Linked DNA regions of Homo sapiens. The protein of the gene in region 1 purifies or fractionates together with the protein of each later gene. This does not show direct contact. Each region holds a gene or a part of one and is shown in the gene's direction. Other genes may lie near its edges.

Region 1 (3,746 bases):
ATCAGTAACACACATTTCCTCACCAGAGTCTCAAGGCAAACCACCTCTTCTTTCTTTTTTCATGAGACGGTCTCACTCTGCTACCCAGCCTGCAGTGCAGTGGTGCAGTCTCGGCTCCCTGCAGCTGTACCTTCCAGGGCTCAGGCGATCCTCCTACCTCAGAAGCTGGGACCACAGGCACCATCACCGCGCCTGGCTAATTTTTGTATTTTTTGTACGGATAGATTCTGCCGTGTTGGCCGGGTTGGTCTCAAACTCTTGGACTTAAGTCATCCGCCTACTGCAGTCTCCCAAAGTGCTGGGATTATAGGCGTGAGCCACTGCGCCTAGTCTTAGCCTCTTTCTTTTTTTAATTTTTAATTTTTAATTGTTTAAGAGTGAGGGCCTCACTGTTGCCCAGGCTGGAGTGCAGTGGTGCGATCTCAGCTCACCTGTAGCCTCCACATCCTGGGCTCAATCTATCCTCCTTGGAGGACAGAAAAATAAAGGTGTAAGATACGTTCCTGCCAGGAACGGCCCATATCATGTGACCAGCCCCCATGGGGGCGGCCTCCTGAGTGACTGGGACCACCAGTGTGTGCCACCATGCCCAGCTGATTCAAAAACATATATTTTGTAGACACAAGGTCTCCCCATGTTGCCTAGGTAGGTCTCAAACTCTTGGATTTCAGAGGGTTCAAGTGACCCGCTCGGCCTCCCCCCGTCCTGGGGTTGCAGGCGCGAGTGACCCGCCTGCCTTGGCCTCTCCCCATCCTGGGGTTGCAGGCATGAGCCCCTGTGCCTGGCCTTGACCTTCTAGAATGACGCGGAGACTTTTGAGCCTGTTGGCTCTGCCTGCTCTTTTCCCAGTTCACGTACTCTTATCTGGAGTTTGGTCCTGTCCGTTCTAAATCCTGCAAATTGGACATTAAAAAAACTAAAAGTAAGAGGATCTCCCTGTGTTGCCCAGGCTGGTCTCAAAGTCCTGGGCTAAAGGGATCTGCCTGCCGCAGCCTCCCAGCATGCCGGGATTACAGGCACAAGCCCCAGTGCCCGGCCAAATTGGACGTTATTACTTCCTTTCCAAAAGAGTGGTTTACATTTTCCTCCCCACACACGGTTCGTGCCTCCACCCCGGTCCCGCGTTCCCTGCTGTCCTGACTGCGTCTTTAAGCTTCATCCCGTTGGTCCGGCCTGTTGGCGATGTGCTTGGGGCAGGAGGCCTTGCCCGTGCCCGCCCCCCAACTCTGATTGTGTCTGTCTTTCCTTGGTGCCACTTTATTTGGGTCTTTTCTGCCCAGGACATGGCCCACCTGGACCTAGAGCTCTGTGACATTTCTGTGAAGCCTCCGTCTACCTTTGGGACTCAGCAGAGGTGTGTTTAGAATTCACTCTGCGTTTTGGGGGTCCCCATGCATGCTGAGGTGCTGTTCCCTGCCCACCCGTGTCCGATCCGTCTTGGCCTCCCCGACCTCAGGGTGCCTAGGACCCCCCGACCTCTTTGGGTATTTGGTTTCTGGCTCAGGAAGAGCAGCTGCCGGGTCCTGGAGGAGGGGCCTGGGAAGCGCTGGCAGGCGTCACTCCTGCGACCTCCCACCCCTCCCTGCATGGCTCCTGCGAGGGTCACCGCGTGAGTCCGGGGGCTGCTGTCCTCGCGCCTCAGACCTGATTCTGGGGACCGCGGTGAAGGCGTGGCAGGCGGGCATCACTCCCTTCCCCCGCCTCCATCGCTGCCTCTCTCTGGGTCTGCGTCCTCTTCTCACAGGGACAGCAGTCGTTGACTCTCCCTGATCCAGGAGGGTCTCTCCAGATCCTTCCCTAACAGCAGAGGCCCGGCTCGTGGGGAGGGACTGGGACTCAAGGCTTCTTCACCAGCCTGAGGTTGGTGCTGGGGCTCGGCGGCGGCTGTGAGAATCCTGTGCTGGAGAAAGCGTCTCTCGGCCGGCCTGTCTGGGGCGTCTGTGCCTCTCCTGGATGGGTCTCAGTTTGGCCCCGTCCATCCATCCCAGGAGCTGCGGTGGAGCAGACAGGGAGGGGTGCCCCAGGAACCACAGCCCCGTCACTCCTGTCTTCCTTTAAGTGAACCGGTCGTGTAGATGGAGGTTGTTCAGAAAGGGATAAGATGGGACGGCAGCTGGGCCTCATCCCGCAGTGAGCGCGACGCAGAGGCTGCCGGGCTTGTGGCAGGGGCTTCGGCCAGGGCAGAGTCGGGCCTCACGTGCAGGGGGCTGAGTGTGGGCCTCAACACTGGACTTGGCCACTGACTGCAGTGAGCCCCAAGATGGGGCAGGAGGTGGTGTTTCTGTCCTGGAGACCCAGGGTGGCTTGGGTCCTTGGGATGTGTGGGGACCTCGGGGTGAGGGCCCGTTGGGGCCGGGTGGGCACGGCAGGAGAGCGGGGGCCACACACCCAGAGGCAGTGCCGTGTCCCGGCTGGGAGGGTTCCTGGGAAGCTCTGCTCAGCCCCAGTCTCAGTCATTTCTAGAAACTGTGTTTTCCTCCCTGTGACGTCACACGTGAAGGAAACGGAAAAGGGCAGTGAGTCCTTCGCCCCGCGGCGCCGTGCGCACGTCAGCCTTCAGGGTGATTCCGCTCCTCCAGAGGGGCAGGCGCGGGTGTGGGGGGTGGGGCCCAGGCCCATCCTGAGGGGTCCCAGGCATGAGGGGCTCTGAGCTGTGTCCTGGGGTGGTCTGGGCCATGGGGAGGTTCTGGATCATGTCTTGAGAGGTCTGGGCTGTGTGGGGGGTCCAGGCCATGTCCTGGGGGTCTGGGCTGTGTCTGTGGGGAGTCAGGGCCATCCATGTATTGGGGGTCTGGGGCAGGGGGGGGTCCAGGCTGTCTTGGGGAGTCCGGGCTGTGTGGAGGGGTCCAAGCTATGCCTTTGGGGATCAGGCCTGTGGGAGGCTCTGGGTTATGTCTTGGCGGGGGTCCAGGCTGTGTCTTAGGGGCTGGGCCATGTTCTGGGGACGTGTGAATCCTGGAGGGTGGGGCCCCGGTCTCGCGGGTGGCTGTGTCCCTCGAGTTCAGGCAGCACCTCTCGGAACTTTCTGGATTTGCGTGCTGGCGTCTGTCGGCCTCGATACCCACAGGCTGCGCCCCTCTCAGCACAGGAAGTCCTGGAGAACCTGAAGGACCGCTGGTACCAGGCGGACAGCCCCCCTGCAGACCTGCTGCTGACGGAGGAGGAGTTCCTGTCGTTCCTCCACCCCGAGCACAGCCGGGGAATGCTCAGGTTCATGGTGAAGGAGATCGTCCGGGACCTGGGTGAGGCTGGGTCCAGCCTGGCCGGCACGCCAGGACCCAGGACCGACTGGCAGGGGCCGGGCATCGTCGGGAGGTCGGGGCAGGTCCTGCGGGAGCCCCAGCCTGGGTGTGGGCTGACCCATTCCCGTCTCGCAGACCAGGACGGTGACAAGCAGCTCTCTGTGCCCGAGTTCATCTCCCTGCCCGTGGGCACCGTGGAGAACCAGCAGGGCCAGGACATTGACGACAACTGGGTGAAAGACAGAAAAAAGGAGTTTGAGGAGCTCATTGACTCCAACCACGACGGCATCGTGACCGCCGAGGAGCTGGAGGTGAGCCCTGGCGCAGCCGTGTCCCGGAGCCGGCCCTGCGAGGTGCTGTGGCGGGAGGGGCTGGTGGATCTGGGCCTGAGGCAGGAAGCTGTGCTGGTGTCTGGCCTGAGACTCCATCTGGGCTGGTCACTGGGGCGTTTGCTCAGCGGTGTCCACCAGGCTGCATGGCCGTTGTTGGCGTTTAGGTTCAGAC
Region 2 (3,746 bases), on another chromosome or scaffold:
CAGCCTCATATACGTTGACATATAAAATATTATATTAGACATATAAAATTTCTCAGCTTTTCTAGCATGCTGATGTCTGAAATGGTGTAAATGGGAGAGGTGGCAGTTCTTTCATGCTGCTTTGACTTCTGGTTATTTTTGTGTAGCAGCTTTCATTGATGGGGTCCATTCTTGGCCTTGCCTAATCATTTTTCTTGGATGATATAGAGTGTTACAAAAGAATTATTATCTTAATGAATCAGGAATGTTCTCTCTATTTGTTTTCTGACATAGGTAAAGTGGGAAGGATTAGAACCTTCAAGGTGAAATGTCAAACTAGAAATTTCCTTTTATAATCTGCTTGTGTTCCCCTTGGTTTTAGGAGCTGGGAATCCCAAGTGCAAAATTGCAATTGTTTTGGGAAGAACTCAAAATACTTCTCTCTCCAGGTAATTAAACAATTCTGATTGAGAAACCTGTGTAGGAATGAGCCAGTCTTCCTCCTATCTAGGTAATTTACTTAAAATTCACTGTTTGGACTCACAAATCATAATGTAAGATATGAGAGTAAATGTCATATATTTGTATTTCACAAGTATTTTCTAACAGGTGTTTTTGGAAAACATTATAGGGAGTATTGCTGAACATTCTTCGCTGTGGAATTTTCAGTATTAGAAAGTGTTGCTAAATTATCAAAGCTGTTTGGATTAAATTATCAGACAAATTTTTTCAGACCTGTGTAATGAAGTGATTAGATGTTTAGATCAAAGGCAATAATCTTGAAATGTTTAATTATATATATAAGTTCCCAGTTACCATTGTTGAGCAGTGAGAAGCTTCAATCAAACAACTCATTTATTTTCAAATCATTGTTTCTGTTCCAGATCACAGCCTGCATCAGACTATGTTGGTGTACGTCTTTTACACAGTTCCCATTCCAGTCATCACTGCTTACATGACTACATGAAAACATCAAAAAGACAATTGTGATTCTGCTTATTATCTGTTTTATTTTTCTTCTTAGCAAACTTTTTCTAATACAATTTTTCTTTTGACTAGACACAAACAGCACAGCATGATTCTTGTTCCCATGAACACACCTGGAGTAAAAATAATAAGGCCTTTGTCAGTTTTTGGCTACACAGGTAGGTATCCAATAAATATGACCATGCATTAGCAAGCAGGAAGGCTAGAATATGCAGTAACATTGAAGGCAATAGCATTTTAATGCATAAGATAGATTCTTAGATATTCCTTTGTCTGTGACAACTGTCTTAATATAAATGCTGGTGGAGTTCAGAGTAGAGCCAATAAAAAGAAATAGTATAGCATTTATGTAATTTATAATTATATAAATTATAGAATTTATAGAATATAAATTCTGCCTTTTTGGGAAAGGGCAGATTGTATTTAAGGAAGAGCAACACTACCAGTCTTTTCTCTGTCATTCATAAAAATGGATTAATGCACAGATAATCCACAATAAAATTATTTTTATCTCCAATTTTAGCCCTCTTAATCAATCAACTTACAAGAACTGTTAAAAAGCAATGAGTTTTTGACTTATTTGAGTGCAAAATTTTCCTTCCTCTGCCCTTGGGTGGGACTTCTAAGAAGCAAAGATCCATTTGTTTCCTGCCACCTACTGTGGCACGTGTTCATTGTGTACAATAAATATTTGCTAAGATCACCCTCTCAGCAAGTATTTGCTTAGCCACCATGCCCAGCTAATTTTTGTATTTTTAGTAGAGACGGGCTTTCACCATGTTGGCCAGGCTGGTCTCGAACTCCTGACCTCAGGTAATCCACCCTCCTCGGCCTCCCAAAGTGCTGGGATTATAGGTATGAGCCACCGGGCCCAGCCCCTGGCTTTCTTTTTATCATTGAATATGACTAATGAATATGTTCAAGTGGCAGATATAAGACTTGCAGTTTTATAGAATCACTTATCAGTTAAGATGCAGCTGTAGAGTATACCCACAGGGTAAGCATAGGTGGCAAGATGGGATGAGCAAGCTTGCTGGAGAAAATTGCATGTAGGAAATTGTTGGGTTGCAGCGAAACGGCCGCAAAGATACCAAAAATGCGTTTATAATATAGTTGAGCTGCAAATAATTTCCATTGCAGAGGCTACATTTGATTATTCAGTATGAAAACTTTACTAGCACCTCTCCAACTCCCTGTGTCCAGGGCCAAAAGAAACAGTGTGGAGAAGGCTGATTATTGTCTCCTCTGACAGGAAAAGGGTGTAGAGTTAGCATGAGATTATCTCTAAAACTTGGCAGGGAGAAGGGGTGATGCAAAGATAAAATGTGAACGTGTTCCTGGCCTCAGTGTTTCAAATGCCAGTATTTTCAAGAGACGAACACACAGTGGAACAAGTCTAGACTGGGAGTAAACCTACCTGAAGGTCTAGTTTCTGTATCATCACTAATGCCAAGCCTGCTCTTTCCCCTCAAGCAGGCCCCTGTCATCTTTAGGCGTTGGTTTCCACAATGATAAAATAAGAAACATGGATTACATTACTCATTTTTAATTTTTGAAACATTGAAACTTTTTTCCATGCAAATTGTTTGGAACCCCATATGTAAAATATTTCAAAGAAGCAGCAATAATAAAACAAATAAAATACTCTGGCTGGATCTATGGAGCCTGGTCTTCCTTTTTCCTAGCTCTCTGAAATTGTACTTCAGAGAATGAATTAGAAAACATCTGGATCAAAGGGTTTCTCTTCTTGAACAGTTGATGAGTTTTCTGGGCTGCTGGGTCCTGGGGTTCAGGGCTGAGGCTTACCTCAGAATGTTCATGCCATATGGATCTTTGAAATCCTATTTTCTTCAAGTAATTATATTTCAGCAGATTAAGAATATGTGACTCTTTTTTAGTCAACTCCTTTTGCTCTAAATTTTATTTTCTATTTTATAGATAATTTTCATGGAGGACATTTTGAGATCCATTTTAATCAAGTGCGAGTTCCTGCCACAAATCTAATACTAGGTGAGTTGAATTTGGAAATGATTCTTCAGTATTGTACATTAATATTTCAGCTCTAAATCTGGAAAAGATAAGTCTTTCCAGATTTAGACCTGAAGTCTACCTTGATTTAGATATTAGGTTCGTGCAAAAGTTATTGCGGTTTTTGAACTGCAATTACTTTTGCACCAAGGTAATTGCAGTTTTTGGCAAAAGCCGCAATTACTTTTGCACCAACCTAATACTTTCCCTTCTTGTTTACTCCATTTGTCAAGGGAAAGTTTTCTGTTTGGCGGATTTTCTTACATGGAATGGTGAGGTTTTATTTAAGTGTTGGATGTGGTTTTCTATATCACATCAATTGAAAAGATAATATGAAAATTATATAATTCAGAGCAATACACTTTCTCCTAGAACATGATCTGTAGGCCTCTATTTGTTTTAAGAAAACCTCAGTACTTTATGAATTCAAGTATTAGATATAAGTTAGAAGCATAAATAACTTTGAACACTGTATGCCATCCTCTTGCTTATTAGAATACTATATCCCTTTCAAAGAACATCTAGAATACCACCTCTTCCAGGAATGTTTTTGTGTTCATCCCATCCATTCACCAGGCCCCTGATACCTGCCAGGCCCTGAGGTTATAATGATGAACAGAAAATCTCTTCTTCCTTTGCCTTTGTTTCTCTCTGTATCTCTTACCCTTACCCACTCTTCTGGATTCTAAACTCCTAGTACAGGGACTATGTGTTATTCCAACTTTGTATCTATTGCAGCATTAATAAAATAG
Region 3 (3,746 bases), on another chromosome or scaffold:
GAGGGGCAAGTGGATGGGCAAGTGGAGGGGCAGGGCCAAGGCCAGGGCACTGTAACTCCTGCTCCCATCACCAAAGGCGGCTCCACTGGTCCCTGCGGCCACCTCCTCTGAAGCAGGCTCCCAGGACCCCAAAGTGAGACCCAGACAATGTTGGGGACACTTCCAGGCCACCGTGGGGAGAGGCAACTTAGCAAATGTTCGCCAGGTGCCAGCAGCTGCGCTCGCCCGTAGGCTCCTCCTAACCCGACAGCTTCCTAACTGTTCACACCTGCTTTTTCGTCGCTGCAAAACAAAGACGCACAGGTTTTACATAGGTCACCCCCGGGGCAGTCTCACAGCCAGAAAGAGACAAGAGCACAGACTCCCTCTGGGGACTGTGCTAGGGCTGTGGCCTCAAACCGAATGGGCTCCTGGGTGAACCTGCTGCGACCTGAGGGGGGTCCCTACAACCTGTGCGAGCCTCAGCTACTGCACCTGTACCTGGGAGGTGCTACTGTCAATCTATCGGTTACGGCAAGGGGCGGTGGAGTGATTCCTCTTGCTGGCCAATTTCACTTCAGTTTGCACCTGGCACAATCAACACTGGCAGAATTAACAAAACTAGACAAATATAGCCTCATGATCATTCATGCCTAGCTCTCGGTCAGTATTCAACTTCTTTCTTGTTCATGGTGTGTTACCCTAGGCAAGTCACTTCCCCTCCCTGGGTCTCCATCATCTCCTCAGTAAACTGGGAGCACAGAATAAAGCGCGTGGGAGGATTAAAGGGGACACTTTGGTCGCCCAACACTTGTTCACTGCATAACGATAATTCCAAGAGCGACATCACAGTAAAGACCCAGGCGCCGATCTAAGCGCGTTTCAGCCTCACGCGACGCCTACGAGGTTGAGCTGCGTCATCGGCCCCATTTCGTAGCGGAGGAAAGCGAGGCACTGGGCGGTCAGGCCGCTTGCCGGAGGTCGCCCAGCGTCCCAGCCGAGGACGCGGAACTCAGGGCCGGTCGGGTGTCAGCGCTCCGGAGCATGCGCAGAGGCAGCACGCCATCGGGGTCTTCAGGGGCCCGCGCAGTTCCTGGCGGGGTCGAACCCGAACTCACCCCGAGGGTCCTAACTCCCCACCTCCGCTGCCCATCCTCTCCAGCCCTATGGCGTCTACAAATCCAGACCTGCGGAAGCCCCAACTCACCCAGCGCCTCGCCCCGAGGAATCCGCCATTTTCCCGCCTTCCACCTCAAGGCCCGACCCGCCGGCTTTTCAAAGCCGGACCCGCCCCCTTGCTTGCGGGTCGGACCATTTGTGGAGACGCAGGAGGGGTGGCTGCGAGGCGTGAGGCAGCGCCGGCTAAGTGTGGAGAGCGCGGCCCCAGACGCGCGCTTCGCCTGTCCTCCCCTCGCACTTGGTCTCGCCCACCATCGGCGGTAGTGGGTAGGGGCGGTGGGTGGGACCTGATCTGTCGGACAGTAGGGGCGGGGCTTTTCGCGATGCCCCGCCCCTAGGAGCGCTGGCGTCACGCCCCCGTCCCCGCCTCTCCGGAACCCGGAAGCGGGAGCGCGCGGGGGAGCGGCGGGCGCGGCGGGGCGGAGCGGCTCGAGCAGCGGCGGGCTGGCAGGCGGTCGTCCGGCCGGGGACCCGGCCCGGGACCGGCGGCGCGCGGCGGCCGAGGCCAGGTGAGTACCAGGCAGCCTCGGGTTGGCGACTCGAGCTCGAAGCCTGCCTTTGGGGGCTGCGCAGAAGAGGGACGGAGCTGAGGGCTGATGGGGGACGCGACGGCAGGGGTCGAGGGGGCGGGAACGAGCCTGGGGGTCTTGGAGAGATTGCTGGGGATGAGGTGGAAGCGAGACGGTGAAGGAGAAAGTGGATGGGGATGGAGCTGGTGAGGGAGTTCGAGGGCGTGGGGGGGGTGAGTCTTGTGGCTTTGAGCAGCTTCTCTGAAGAGGACGTGGCTTAAGTGGTAATTGGGGGGTCGCAGGAAACGGCGTTGTGGGGAGGCACGGAGGCGGGAACGAGAGGCCCAGGCTGGGGGAGTGGGCAAGGCCAGGGGCGGGACAGCCGGGGTGCGGTTGAGGGGAAGGGGTGCGAGACCGATCTGGGGACGTCTGCCCGCGCGATTGAAGGAAGGGTGTCTGAGAAGAGGGCGGCGCCTGGCCCCCAGTGGGCGCTCAGTAAATGCGGGGGGTTCTGAACTAACTGATGCGGCAGCCGGCTATTGGGAAGCGGGGAAATGGGAGCTGGAAGGGAAGTAAACGGAGTAGAAGTCACGGTAAGAACTGAGGGTAGGCTTAGGGAGGGAGGGCCCGGAGAGGAGGGAAGAGAAGGAAGGGGTTAGAGTGGCCCCGTGCAGATAGATGTTGAGATGCAGCCCCTGGAGATTCCGTCCCCCCACCCTCCCCTCTTGATTCGTGTCCCTCCTGACTTCACACTTAACAGCTGGGTGACCTGGGACGAGTCCCAACACCCTCTGTGCCAGTGTCCTCGTCTTGGAAACTTCACCACCCTCCCCTTAAGACAGGACTAGCAGGATTCTGGGATTCCCTGGATCCAAGGAAGGGACCTCAGGGCCGGTTGTGGGGCCGGAACTGTGTTTCAGGAGGGAGTGTGCATGCACCCTCATGTACAGGACTGTCGCCACCTCCGCAGAGCTGCATCCTTGGACTTAAATGGGTAAAACGACATACAGGAAATCTGTCCCCCGGTTGCTCTGAGCTCAGCCCTGGAGAGGCACGACAGCCACGAGCCCTCCTTTCTTTCCTGGGCACCCTGGAGGCCAGGGGTCTTTAAGGGATGGCTTCTCTGCCTCTTTGTCTGAGGTGGGAGCCCGTGGGGACACTTTCCAGCCAGAGAGTCCCAACTCGGTTTGTTTTTTGATGTTGGAGTCTTCAGAATCTTAAGGTGTCCAGGAGCAGCCGGAGGTGACCTGGGCTACAGGAAAGTTATTCACATCTGACAGGCCTGGCTCTTGTGGCCCTGGCAGGGACTTTGTGCAGGGTGCTTTTGATTGGCATTCATTTCTCCCCTTTCCCAACTGTAGGGATCTTTATCTGGGATCTGCCAGAAGGGCTGGGGAACCCCAGCTTATGTTTAGTTTATAGCTCATTCAGGAGATGAACCCGGATAGCTGGAATATAAAGAGGGCCACAGAAAGATAAGCACCCCCTTCACTTCCAGAATATCCTGGCCTTTAGGAAAGGTGGCTTTGGCCTGGCTTGCCCCAGGACATGCAGTGACAGCCCACAGTCATGCCTCCTGCAAACATTGAACTGTAGGCTTGCACTGGCCTACAGAACAGGACCGGGATCTTCTGATCCCGCAGCCCTGCAATCGCCTCTTCCCTGCCGCTAGAGAATGGCCAAGCAGGGTCTTGTGGGGGGAGCACTGTGTTGGAGATCCTGGCTTTGGTCAAGTCTCTGTGCCTGTTTCTGACCTCTCACCTGCAAAATGAATGAATTGACCTCCATCAGCGTTTTTCAACCTTGAAACCCAACTCTTCTCATCACCGTCTTGTCTCCAGTCCATGTCCCCCAGCTCCCGGCCTTGAACTCCTCACAGCACCCCCACTCTCCATTCCTGGCTGCGATGATCCTACTTTTATTCCGTTTTCCATTCGACAGTTTGTATCCAAAAATGATTTTTTTTCAACCGCTTCTTCATCGTCCAAATAGAAAATTGCGGTGTTGAAGGTGCTTTTGCACATTGCACCTATTCCCAAAGCTTTGGAAACTGCAAATTTCTGGAAATCCCGAGGCAGT

Evidence for each region.
Region 2: the proteins of SDF4 (region 1) and ACAD11 purify together in Homo sapiens (affinity purification with mass spectrometry; 4 studies listed by BioGRID and IntAct, with this or other methods). This does not show direct contact.
Region 3: the proteins of SDF4 (region 1) and MYO9B purify together in Homo sapiens (affinity purification with mass spectrometry; 3 studies listed by BioGRID and IntAct, with this or other methods). This does not show direct contact.

Annotation. Positions count from the first base shown.
Region 1 is NC_000001.11:1,218,265-1,222,010, reverse strand, and holds part of SDF4 (45 kDa calcium-binding protein isoform 2 precursor), read left to right. Parts: intron 1-1,280; coding exon of another isoform or gene 1,281-1,312; exon of another isoform or gene 1,313-3,077; intron 3,078-3,083; coding exon 3,084-3,242; intron 3,243-3,377; coding exon 3,378-3,553; intron 3,554-3,746. UniProt on the Homo sapiens protein: May regulate calcium-dependent activities in the endoplasmic reticulum lumen or post-ER compartment. Isoform 5 may be involved in the exocytosis of zymogens by pancreatic acini.
Region 2 is NC_000003.12:132,576,174-132,579,919, reverse strand, and holds part of ACAD11 (acyl-CoA dehydrogenase family member 11), read left to right. Parts: intron 1-361; coding exon 362-428; exon of another isoform or gene 429-1,038; coding exon 1,039-1,124; intron 1,125-2,904; coding exon 2,905-2,976; intron 2,977-3,746. UniProt on the Homo sapiens protein: Acyl-CoA dehydrogenase, that exhibits maximal activity towards saturated C22-CoA.
Region 3 is NC_000019.10:17,074,208-17,077,953, forward strand, and holds the start of MYO9B (unconventional myosin-IXb), read left to right. Parts: upstream 1-1,569; 5' UTR 1,570-1,667; intron 1,668-3,746. Other genes in the region: HAUS8 (HAUS augmin-like complex subunit 8), read right to left, coding at 1,187-1,215. UniProt on the Homo sapiens protein: Myosins are actin-based motor molecules with ATPase activity. Unconventional myosins serve in intracellular movements. Binds actin with high affinity both in the absence and presence of ATP and its mechanochemical activity is inhibited by calcium ions.